Regions from separate parts of the Homo sapiens genome. Here region 2 is linked to region 1. The links come from fine-mapping of genetic effects on plasma protein levels. A gene starts in region 1. The other region holds a variant in brackets. All regions are shown on one strand. Distances are between the middles of the regions.

Region 1 (5,371 bases):
CCAGAGCAGTGGCCGAAAGCCGCAGACCCTATCCATTGTGTGGGGGATTTCAGTGGGATTCTTGGGCTTTCAGGAGCCTACAAGTGGACTCGCATTTCAACACCTGTGTTCTGTAGGGTTTTCTAGATCTAAGATTCCAGGATTCTATGAAAAGTTATGATAGCCCTGCCCCCTAAAAGATTGTAAGTTTAAACAACAACAAGAAGTCACAAACTGGTGCATCCCAATCCCATGGGTTCCATTTCACAGGTAAAAGGTGTCTGGGTGAATAAACTGCTGTGCCGCTCAAAGGACCCAAAGGAAGGTTCTTTGTGGGTTGGCGTCTGCAAATATCACCAGCTGCCTGGCTAGAGTGACCAGCTAACATACCCATGTGGACCCTGGGCATGAAGGGAGGTACCAGGCCAGGGGCAGTGGCTCATGCCTGTAATCCGAGCACTTTGGGAGGCCACTCTGGGAGGATTGCTTGAGCCCAGGAGTTCAAGACCAGCCTGGGCAACATGGCGAGAACCTGCCTCTACAAATAATTTTTAAAATTAGCTGGACATAATGGCATGCACCTATAGTCCCAGCTACTTGGGAGGCTGAGGAGGGAGGATCACTTGAGCCTGGGTGATTGAGACTGCAGTGAGCCATGATGGCACCACCGCACTCCACCTTGGGTGACAGAGCAAGACCTCACCTCAAAAAAAAAAAAAAAAAGAAAGAAAGAAAGAAAGAAAGAAAGAAAGAAAAGAAAAGAGGCTGGACGCAGTGGCTCATGCCTGTAATCCTAGCACTTTAGGAGGCCGAGGTGGGTGGATTGCCTGAGCTCAGGAGTTCGAGACCAGCTTGGGGAACACAGTGAAACCCCGTCTCTACTAAAAATACAAAAAATTGGCCGTTGTGGTGGTGTGTGCCTATAATCCCAGCTACTCAGGAGGCTGAGACAGGAGAATTGCTTAAACCTGGGAGGCAAAGGTTGCAGTGAGGCAGGATCACGCCATTGCACTCCAGCCTGGGCAACAGAGCGAGACTCCATCTCAAAAAAAGAAAGAAAGAAAAGAAAAGAAACGAAGAAAAGAGGCTGGGCGTAGTGGCTCACACTTGTAATCCCAGCACTTTGGGAGGCCGAGGCAGGCAGATCACCTGAGGTCAGGAGTTCAACACCAGCCTGGCCAACGTGGTGAAACCCCATCTCTACTAAAAATACAAAAAATTAGCTGGGCATGGTGGTGGGCGCCTGTAATCCCAGCTACTCAGGAGGCTGAGGCAGGAGAATTGCTTGAACCTGGGAGGCAGAGGTAGCAGTGAGCCGAGATCACGCCATTGCACTCTAGCCTGGGCAACAGAAGTGAAACTCTGTCTAAAAAAAAAAAGAAAAGGAAAGAAAGAAAGGTGGCCCTGTTAATGTTTATGCCAAGACAGCAGGCATGACCTGGAAGTGTCCGAAGCCACAGGGCATCTTGCTTCCGGGGAGGATGAATGAATCAAATCGCACCTATTTTAAGGCAAGCAAGGACTCCATGACTTCAGGAGCCCTGGTGGGTGGACAGAAGCTCCCTGCTCCCCTGGCCTGTCTACCCAGCAGCGCTTTGGCCAGTCCCATTCCTGTACTTCTGAGCCTGCCTGCCAGTCCCTCCTCACATGCACACCATGGCTTTGTGCCTGGTATTGAGTGTCCCGGAGCCCCAAACCACACGGTCAACCCCATGAAAGAAACAGGGACTCTGCTCTCATCCACTCGCCCCCGCCTCCCGCGTAATCCCCTGGTGCTCACGCAGCCCCACCGTACAGTTTTTCTAGCTCCCTGGCAGACTTGTGCTCCTGTTTGCCAGATCAAAGCCCAGTGACCTGAGTGGCCTGTCCCCAGCAGAGGCCACTAATCCCTGTGGACCCACCCTGTTGGGAAAGGCATGGGTTGAACTTTAACCATTAGGCTCAGGGGTTGGGATGAGTTTCTACAAAAAGAGGTGGGTACACGCCAGTCCACAGTGGTCCTGATCAAAGTGAGAACAGACAGCAGGGAACATCACCCTCTTCAGACTGGAGTCAGTGGGAACAGACCCAAGATGTTGGGGAGGAACACTTGGAAGACCTCAGCTTTCTCCTTCTTGGTTGAGCAGATGTGGGCCCCTCTCTGGAGTCGTTCGATGAGGCCAGGGCGATGGTGTTCTCAGCGTTCCTGTGCATGGCAAACCAGCAATAACACTTGTAAGTAGAGCCTCAAATTTCCTAAGATGCGACTGGATCCTTGTCTTAGCTGATGGGGTCTTTCGAGAGGAGAGAGGAGAGACCGTCCCGAGCCAGATGGGTTCAGATTTCCACTCCGTTTTTTTTTTTTTTTTTTTAAGATGGCGTCTCGCTCTGTGGCCCAGGCTGGAGTACAGTGGCGTGATCTCAGCTCACCACAACCTCCACTTCCCGGGTTCAAGCGATTCTCCTGCCTCAGCTTCCTGAGTAGCTGGGACTATAGGTGCATGCCACCACTCCTGGCTAATTTTTCGTATTTTTAGTAGAGACAGGGTTTCACTGTGTTAGCCAGGTTGGTCTCGAACTCCTAACCTCGCGATCCGCCTGTCTCAGCCTCCCAAAGTGCTGGGATTGCAGGCATCAGCCACGGCGCCCGGCCCTCTTTTTTCTTTTTTTGATGAAGTTTTGCTCTTTTGCCCAGGCTAGAGTGCAATGGCATGATCTCGGCTCACTGCAACCTCTGCCCTCCAGGTTCAAGTGATTCTCCTGCCTCAGCCTCCAAAGTAACTGGGACTACAGGCACCCGCCACTGCACCCAGCTAATTTTTTGTATTTTGGTAGAGATGGGGTTTCACCATGTTGGCCAGGCTGGTCTCGAACTCCTGACCTCAGGTGATCCACCCACCTTGGCCTCCCAAAGTGCTAGGATTACAGGCGTGAGCCACCGCGCCTGGCCACACTCCGTTTCTCTTGTATTTGGTGACCTTGGGTGAATCATTTAGCCTCCGTTTCAGGGGTCCTGGGGAGGGCAAGATGCTGGGAGCAGGCGGGTAGTCCGTGTTCGCACGGGACACACTGGCACGACTCACCATCCAGACCCGGCGGAATGGGCTGCACTAACCAGTCACGATCGCTCCTAAACTCTTCGGCAGAGAACGCTTTCAAGCAAACCTGTAACAAATAAACCACTCAGCCAGCTCTGCCAAGAAACTGCCCCGTGCCAGCCCCTCCTGGCTTCATGGTCAGTGCCTTGTGACCTTGAACGAGGCCCTTCCTCTTTCTGGGTCTCAGGTGCTTCCTCCGTAGAATGAGAGCCTGCTTTGGCAGCTGCCAAGTTCTCTTCTAACTGAAATCTTCCATGCATTCCATGTTTGGGCCATTGAAAGAGCATGGGCTTAGGAGCCAGACCCCAGGCATGCAGTCCGACTGACGCTTGCTGAGGTGGAGCCTCGGCAGGTCTTCACCCCCAAGCCTCTGTGTCCTTATCTCGAGATGGGGGTGGCCAGACTTTCTCTCCAGGGCCATGGAAGGATGACACGATGCGTGTAGAAAGCCTGGCCCACCCCAGACTCTGAGTGAGCTACACTCATTCCTCCTGTTGGGGTCCACACCTGTGGACTGGAGTGCAGTGGTGCGATCTCGGCTCACTGCAGCCTCTGCCTCCTGGGTTCAAGCGATCCTCTTGACTCAGCCTCCCAAGTAGCTGGGACTACAGGCGTGTGCCACCACGCCCAACTAATTTCTGTATTTTTAGTAGAGATAGGATTTCGCCATGTTGGCCAGGCTGGTCTCAAACTCCCGACCTCAGGTGGTCTACCTGCCTCGGCCTCCTAAAGTGCTGGGATTACAGGCGTGAGCCACTGCACCCACCCCCCTTTTTTATTCTTAGTACGACCGTCAAGAGCGCTAGCCTGCCTAGATTGGAATCTTGGCCCCACTGCTCTATGGCTGTTGCCCCTCTGTGACTTTCCTTTATTTTTTGAGACTAATTTCTGTCTTGTTGCCCAGGCTGGAGCGCAGTGGTGCGATCTCCAGCTCACCGCAACCCCCACCTCCCAGGTTCAAGCAATTCTCCTGCCTCAGCCTCCCGAGTAGCTGGAATTACAGGCATGCGCCACCACATCCGGCTAATTTTGTATTTTTAGTAGATACAGGGATTCTCCATGTTGCTCAGGGTGGTCTTGAACTCCCAGCCTCAGGTGATCTGCCCGCCTCAGCCTCCCAAAGTGCTGGGATTGCAGGCGTGAGCCACCACGCCCAGCTGTCCCCTCTGTGACTTTCTTAACTTCCCCCAGCCTTGGTTTTGTCGTCTGTAACAGGGGGTTGATAATGGTGCTTACGGCACAGTGTCGTTGGGAGAAGGGTCCGAGGTGGGGCCTGCAAAGGCTGGGGACAGCACATGGCTCCAGGAAGCCCTTGCTAGACGCCAGCTGCTGCTGTTGCTAACACAGGCAGCGGTGGGTGCCCTGTGTCTATTTAAGCATTTCCCTGTCAGTGGGCAGCAGGTAGCATTCCATTTCTTACTGTGGCAACATGTCCTCTTACATCGTGTGCTAGAGAGAGTCATATTCTGTATCGGCACCTAAATCCATTTACACCATGGTCCTCAACCTGTTCCCAGTGAACAGAGGGCTCTGCCAAATCATTTCAGAGTTCCACAAAGAGCAGAATATTCTGCCAAGCAGAGAAGATTGGAACATCATAAGGAATTCATCCTTCTATGTCGGTGTTTTATTTATGGGCATTCTGAAGATTATTTCACTTGGAAAAAGAATATTGTTACTAAAAATTATTGAAAAATCACTGGTGGTTTGGCCTTGAGAGAAAAGTCAAAGAGTTACAAAACGCTCAGTGATAATTTTAGAACCAGGCATGGGGGCTCACACCTGTAATCCCAGCACTGTTTTGGGAGGCTGATGTGGGAGGACAGCTCAAGCACAGGAGTTCAAGATCAGCCTGGGCAACATAGCAAGAACCCATCTCTAAAAAAAAAAAAAAATTAAAAAATTAACTGGACATGGTGGCACACACCTATCATCCCAGCTACTTGGGAGGCTGAGGCAGGAGGATCACTGACCCCAGGAATTTCAGGCTGCAGTGAGCCCTGATCAGGCCACTGCACTCCAGCCTGGGCTACACAGCAGGACCCTGTCTAAGAAAAAATAATTTTAGGGATCATTTAATGTTTTCTAGTCATGTTTCAGGGTGTGCACTGGCAGTGCCCATCTGTTCCTAAGTGTGTGATCAGCAACGTTACGTTGGTAACTTAAAATTGGCCATGGTGAAAGTATTTACACCACAGTCATTGGCAAACCCTAGAAATCAAAGATTCTAAATTCCTGGGAGAACGGCTTATTAAACCTCAACCAGCACACTGCTGCACATTTTTGGACATTTTACTGGCTATTTCCTGCTCAGG
Region 2 (5,371 bases), 43 kb after region 1:
ATGCAGTGAGATATTACTTGGCAATCAGAAAGGACACAGCTCTAACTCATGCTGCGGTGTGGGTGAGCCTCAAAAGCGCCGTGCTGAGTGAGAGACACAAGACACAAATGTTCCACATGTTACATGACTCAGTTCCTATGAAACCCACAGAGACAGAAGCAGCAGGGCGGGGGTGGGGACCATAGCTAAAAAGTACCAAGCTTCCCCCTTGAGGTGGAAGTTCTAAAATTGACTTGGGATGGCTGCACAACTGTGAATATACCCAAAACCATAGAACTGTACCCTTCAATTTTTATTTACTTTTTTTGTTTTTTGTTTTTTGTTTTCTTTTTGAGATGGAGTTTCACTCTTGTTGCCCAGGCTGGAGTGCAATGGCATGAGCTCAGCTCACTGCAACCTCTGCCTCCCGGGTTTAAGTGATTCTCCTGCCTCAGCCTCCCGAGTAGCTGGGATTACAGGCATGCGCCACCACGCCTGGCTAATTTTGTATTTTTAGTAGAGACATGGTTTCGCCATGTTGGTCAGGCTGGTCTCGAACTCCTGACCTCAGGTGATCCATCCGCCTCGGCCTCCCAAAGTGCTGGGATTACAGGCGTGAGCCACCGTGCCCAGCCTATTTACTTATTTTAAGAAAGGATCTCACTCCGTCACCGAGGCTAGAGTGCAGTGGTATGATCACAGCTCACTGCAGCCTCAACCTCCGGGGCTCAAGCCATCCTCCCACCTCAGCCTCCCAACTACCTGGGACCACAGGCGTGCACCACTGCACCTGGCTAGTTTTTGTATTTTTTGTAGAGTCAGGGTCTCGTTATGTTGCTTAGGCTGGTCTCAAACTCCTGGCCTCAAGCAGTCCTCCCACATCGGCCTCCCAAAGTGCTGGGATTACAGACATGATCCATTGCGCCCAACCAGGCTGTACACTTTAGATGGGAGAGTTGCATGGTATGTGAATTCTATCACAATAATGCTGTGGGTTTTGCTGCTGCTGCTGTTGTTTGAGACAGAGTCTCTCTCTCTGTTGCCCAGGCTGGAGTGCAATGGTGCCATCTCGGCTCACTGCAACCTCTGCATCCTGTGCCAAAGCAGTTCCTGTGTCTCAGTCTCCCGAGCAGCTGCGATGACAGGCACCTGCCACCATGCCTGGCTAATTTTTGTATTTTTAGTAGAGATGGGGTTTCGCCATGTTGGTCAGGCTGGTCTTGAACTCCTGACTTCAGGTGATCTGCCTGCCTTGGCCTCCCAAAATGCTGCGATTACAGGCATGAGCCACTGTGCCCAGCCTATAATGCTGTTTTTTTTTTTTTAATTAACTGGATAATTATAAACGTGAACATGCGTGCATAGAACTGATGCATGTGTCTGCCAGTGTGGACACTCCCGGGCTTCCTTCTGGTAGCTCAGCCACCTCTCTTGACCCTGACCCTCACTGCTTGATGTTAGGAGACAAGCCCAAGGCATCTGGGTTGCCAGCTTCCACCTTGGAAGGCCAGGGCCCAGCAAAGTCAAGGTGATGTGATGTGGCTGAGCAGGGAGGCCATCTTCCTTGCAGACAGGGACTCTGTCACTTTGGACTGGACTCTTGTCCCACAGTGCTGGCCAGGGGCAGGTGCAGAGCTATGCTTGGTTGGCATGGGACGCTGATGAGGGCTGTGTTGCGGCCAGGCCCAACCACCGTGAGCTGAGATCATGCCACGGCACTCCAGCCTGGAAGACAGAGTGAGACTCTGCCTCAAAAAAAATAAAAAAAATAAAAAGTTATAAATAGAACTACCCTATGATTCAGCAATCACACACTTCTGGGTATATATCCAAAAGAGCTGGCTGGGCACAGTGGCTTATGCCTGTAATCCCAATATTTTGAGAAGCCAAGGCAGGAGGATCGCTTGAGCCCAGGAGTTGGAGAACAGCTTGGGCAAGATGGCAAGACCCCCTGGCTACAAACAATTAATTTTAAACCCTGGTGTGGTGTCCTAGCTACTTGGGAAACTGAGGCGGGGGGATCGCTTGAGCCCAGGAATTAGAGCCTGCAGTGAGCTATGATGGCATCATTGCACTCCTGCCTGGGTGACAAAGTAAGACCCTGACTCTTTTTGTTTTTTGGCTGTGAGTGTATTCAATGCAAAATAATCCTCTCTGATTTTACTGAGGTAGCTGGCCATGTCCACGACCAAATCTGCCTTTAAACTGGAATT[C/T]GGTTGCTGACCCAGCCCGAGCCTCGGCTATCTTGTCGGCACCAGGGGCACAGCACTCCGTCTGTAGGTATGTCTGTCAGCTTCCCCTCTTGTGAGTCTTGCAGGTCGCCCACCCTCCAGACCTTTAGGCCGAGGCCTGCCAGTCCCTGGACGGCTGCAGCATAGGGTGGCAGGCACAGTTTCCAGGGACAGATGAAGGTAATCACGGAGATACTGGATGCCCTCATTGGTAAGGTAGCAGTAGAAATGTCTCCAGGCAAGCCGGGCGTGGTGGCTCACGCCTGTAATCCCAACACTTTGGGAGGCCGAGGTGGGCAGATCACGAGGTCAGGAGATCGAGACCATCCTGACTAATATGGTGAAACCCCGTCTCTACTAAAAATATAAAAAATTAGCTGGTCGCGATGGCGTGAAGATGTAGTCCCAGCTACTAGGGAGGCTGAGGCAGGAGGATCGCTGGAACCCAGGAAGCAGAGGCTGCAGTGAGCTGAGATCGCACCACTGCACTCCAGCCTGGAGACTCTGTCTGAAAAAAAAAAGAAAGAAAGAAAGAAAGAAAGGAAGAAAGAAAGAAATGTCTCTAGGCAAACTGTTCCTTCAGGCAGCCTCGGGGCTTGAGAGACTGCATGGCCTTCGTGACATGAAGGTTGGGCACATTCTTGTCTGCCATCTCCGGGTGCTTAGGCATGTGGACATCCTTCTTGGCCACCATGACTCCCTCCTTAAAAAGGAGCCCATAGGCCGGGCACAGTGGCTCACCCCAGCACTTTGGGAGGCCAAGGCGGGTGGATCATCCGAGGTCAGGAGTTCAAGACCAGCCTGGCTAACATGGTGAGACCCTGTCTCTACTAAAAATACAAAAATTAGCTGGGCGTGGTGGCAGGCGCTGGAGGCTGAGGCAGGAGAATCGCTTGAACCTGGGAGGCAGAGGTTGCGGTGAGCCAAGATCACACCATTGCACTCCAGCCTGGGCAACAAGAGCAAAACTCCATCTCGAAAAAAAAAAAAAAAAGGTTAAGATGGTAAATTTTATGTTATGTATATTTTATCACAATAAAAAGTAATATTTTTTGCAGCCAAGGTATGCTAAAAGAAATGGCTTTATTTTTATTTTTATTATTAATTAATTTATTATTATTATTATTATTATTATTATTATTATTATTATTATTATTTGAGACAGAGTCTCACTCTGTTGCCCAGGCTGGAGTGCAGTGGCATGATCTCGGCTCACTGCAACCTCTGCCTCCTGGGCTCAAGCGATTCTCCTGCCTCAGCCTCCTGAGTAGCTGGGACTACAGGCGCCCACCACCACATCTGGATAATTTTTGTATTTTTAGTAGAGACAGGGTTTCACCACGTTGACCAGGCTGGTCTCGAACTCCTGACCTCAAGTGATGCACCCGCCTCGGCCTCCCAAAGTGCTGAGATTACAGGGGTGAGCTACTGCGCCCCAAGAAATGACTTCAAAAGGAAAAATGTGAGCACCAACGTAAGCTGGTGTAATGTAACGTAATTCCCACCAATGTAAGTTGGCAGGAATCCTTGCTCTGTATAGAAGGGTCACATTTTCTCATCACTGCTTGCAAGTGTGACAGCAGTGGCCTCATGGCCTTATCTGGGGGAAAGCACTTCCTTCCAAGCACCATGAAGGCCTCACGTGCTGAGACAAGATGGAAGCTCCTAGTCTCCCCTGAGGACTGACACGTCCTGTGCTTCTCGGTCTCTCAGGACGCGCGGGCGGCCATGCGCCCCTTCGACCCCTCCACTCTGCTGCCCACCTGCTGGGATTACTGGACCTACGCGGGCTCGCTCACCACCCCGCCGCTGACCGAGTCGGTCACCTGGATCATCCAGAAGGAGCCCGTTGAAGTGGCCCCAAGCCAGGTGAGCCGTGCCCGTAACTGGCACGATGGCGCTTCATGGAAGGCGTCCCTCTTGCTTGGCAGCGTCACTAAGATGCTGCATGAGAGCGTTGTGGAGTTATATATATTCTTTCATGCATTTGGGGCATTCTTACACAAGAAGAAAATTCCAACTGAAGTAGGAGCTTGTTGAGATTGGACAGCGGTTCCAGTGATCACAGCAAGCATGTCCTGAGCAACGCCCTAATCTATCACACACAGACACACGAGGCATCCATGGGAGTTGTCCCAGGGTCATGGGTCTGCATGGTTTTTGTTTTCTTCCTTTTTCTTTTCTTTCCTTTTTTTTTTTTGAGACAGAGTCTCGTTCTATCGCCCAGGCTGGAGTGCAGTGGTGCGATCTCGGCTCACTACAACCTCCACCTCCTGGGTTCAAGCGATTCTCCTGCCTCAGCCTCCCAAATAGCTGGGATTACAGGCACCCATCACCACGCCTGGCTAATTTTTGTATTTTTAGTAGAGACGGAGTTTCACCATGTTGGCCAGGCTGGTCTTGAACTCTTGACCTCAGGTGATCTGCCCACCTTGGCCTCCCAAAGCGCTGGGATTCCAGGCATAAGCCACCGAGCCCGGCCTCCTTTTTCTTATCTAAATAGTTTCATTGCTTTTTTTTTTTTCGAAAATTAATTAATAATATTTGTATACACTTTTTAAAGTTATACTCTTGGGCTGGGCGTCATGGCTCATGCCCATAATTTTAGGACTTAAAGAGGCCAAGGCAGCCAGATCACTTGAGGCCAGGAGTTCGAGACCAGCCTGACCAACATGGTGAAACCCCGTCTCTACTAAATCTACAAAATTAGCCAGGCGTGGTGGTGCATGCCTGTAATATCAGCTACTTGGGAGGCTGGGGCAAGAGAATAACTTGAAGCCGGGAGGCAGAGGCTGCAGTGAGCTGAGATCACGCCACTGCACTCCAGCCTGGACAACAAGAGCAAAACTCCATCTCAAATAAATAAATAAATAAAAATACAAAAATTAGCCAGGCATGGTGGCGTTTGCCTGTAATCCCAGCTACTTGGGAGGCTGAGGTAGGAGAATCACTTGAACCTGGAAGGCGGAGGTTGCAGTGAGCTGAGATGGCACCACTGCACTCCAACCTGGGTGACAGAGTGACACTCTGCCTCAAAAAAATAAAATAAAAAATAAATAAAAGTTATACTATCATTTTTTTCTGGAAATCTTAAGAATCTGTAGCAATTCTGTCTGTCCAAGGCAGTTCAGAGCCACAGACGTGCTGCCTATGCCCCGCCC

Which allele goes with the higher level. Alleles are on the strand shown, and positions count from the first base shown. The strength of an association depends on the size of the effect and on how common the allele is.
For the plasma level of the protein whose gene starts at base 1,973 in region 1, C is the low allele of the variant in region 2 and T is the other (moderate association).

What was found. PIP is the chance, under the fine-mapping model, that this variant and not a neighbour inherited with it causes the effect. The UK Biobank Pharma Proteomics Project read protein levels with antibody pairs (Olink). The fine-mapping took linkage between variants from a reference panel, not from the people measured, so its PIPs are less certain.
Region 2: its variant is fine-mapped to the plasma level of the CA5A protein (UK Biobank, PIP above 0.99).

Annotation. Positions count from the first base shown.
Region 1 is chr16:87,933,131-87,938,501 of GRCh38, reverse strand. CA5A (carbonic anhydrase 5A) reads left to right here and starts at 1,973. Exons shown (of 7, transcript NM_001739.2): 1 at 1,973-2,193. The coding sequence starts at 2,052.
Region 2 is chr16:87,890,507-87,895,877 of GRCh38, reverse strand. It overlaps CA5A (carbonic anhydrase 5A), which reads left to right. Exons shown (of 7, transcript NM_001739.2): 6 at 3,924-4,079. Among named protein-coding and RNA genes, the nearest start is that of SLC7A5, 24 kb to the right of the region's middle. The variant C/T (reference allele first, on the strand shown) is at 2,193.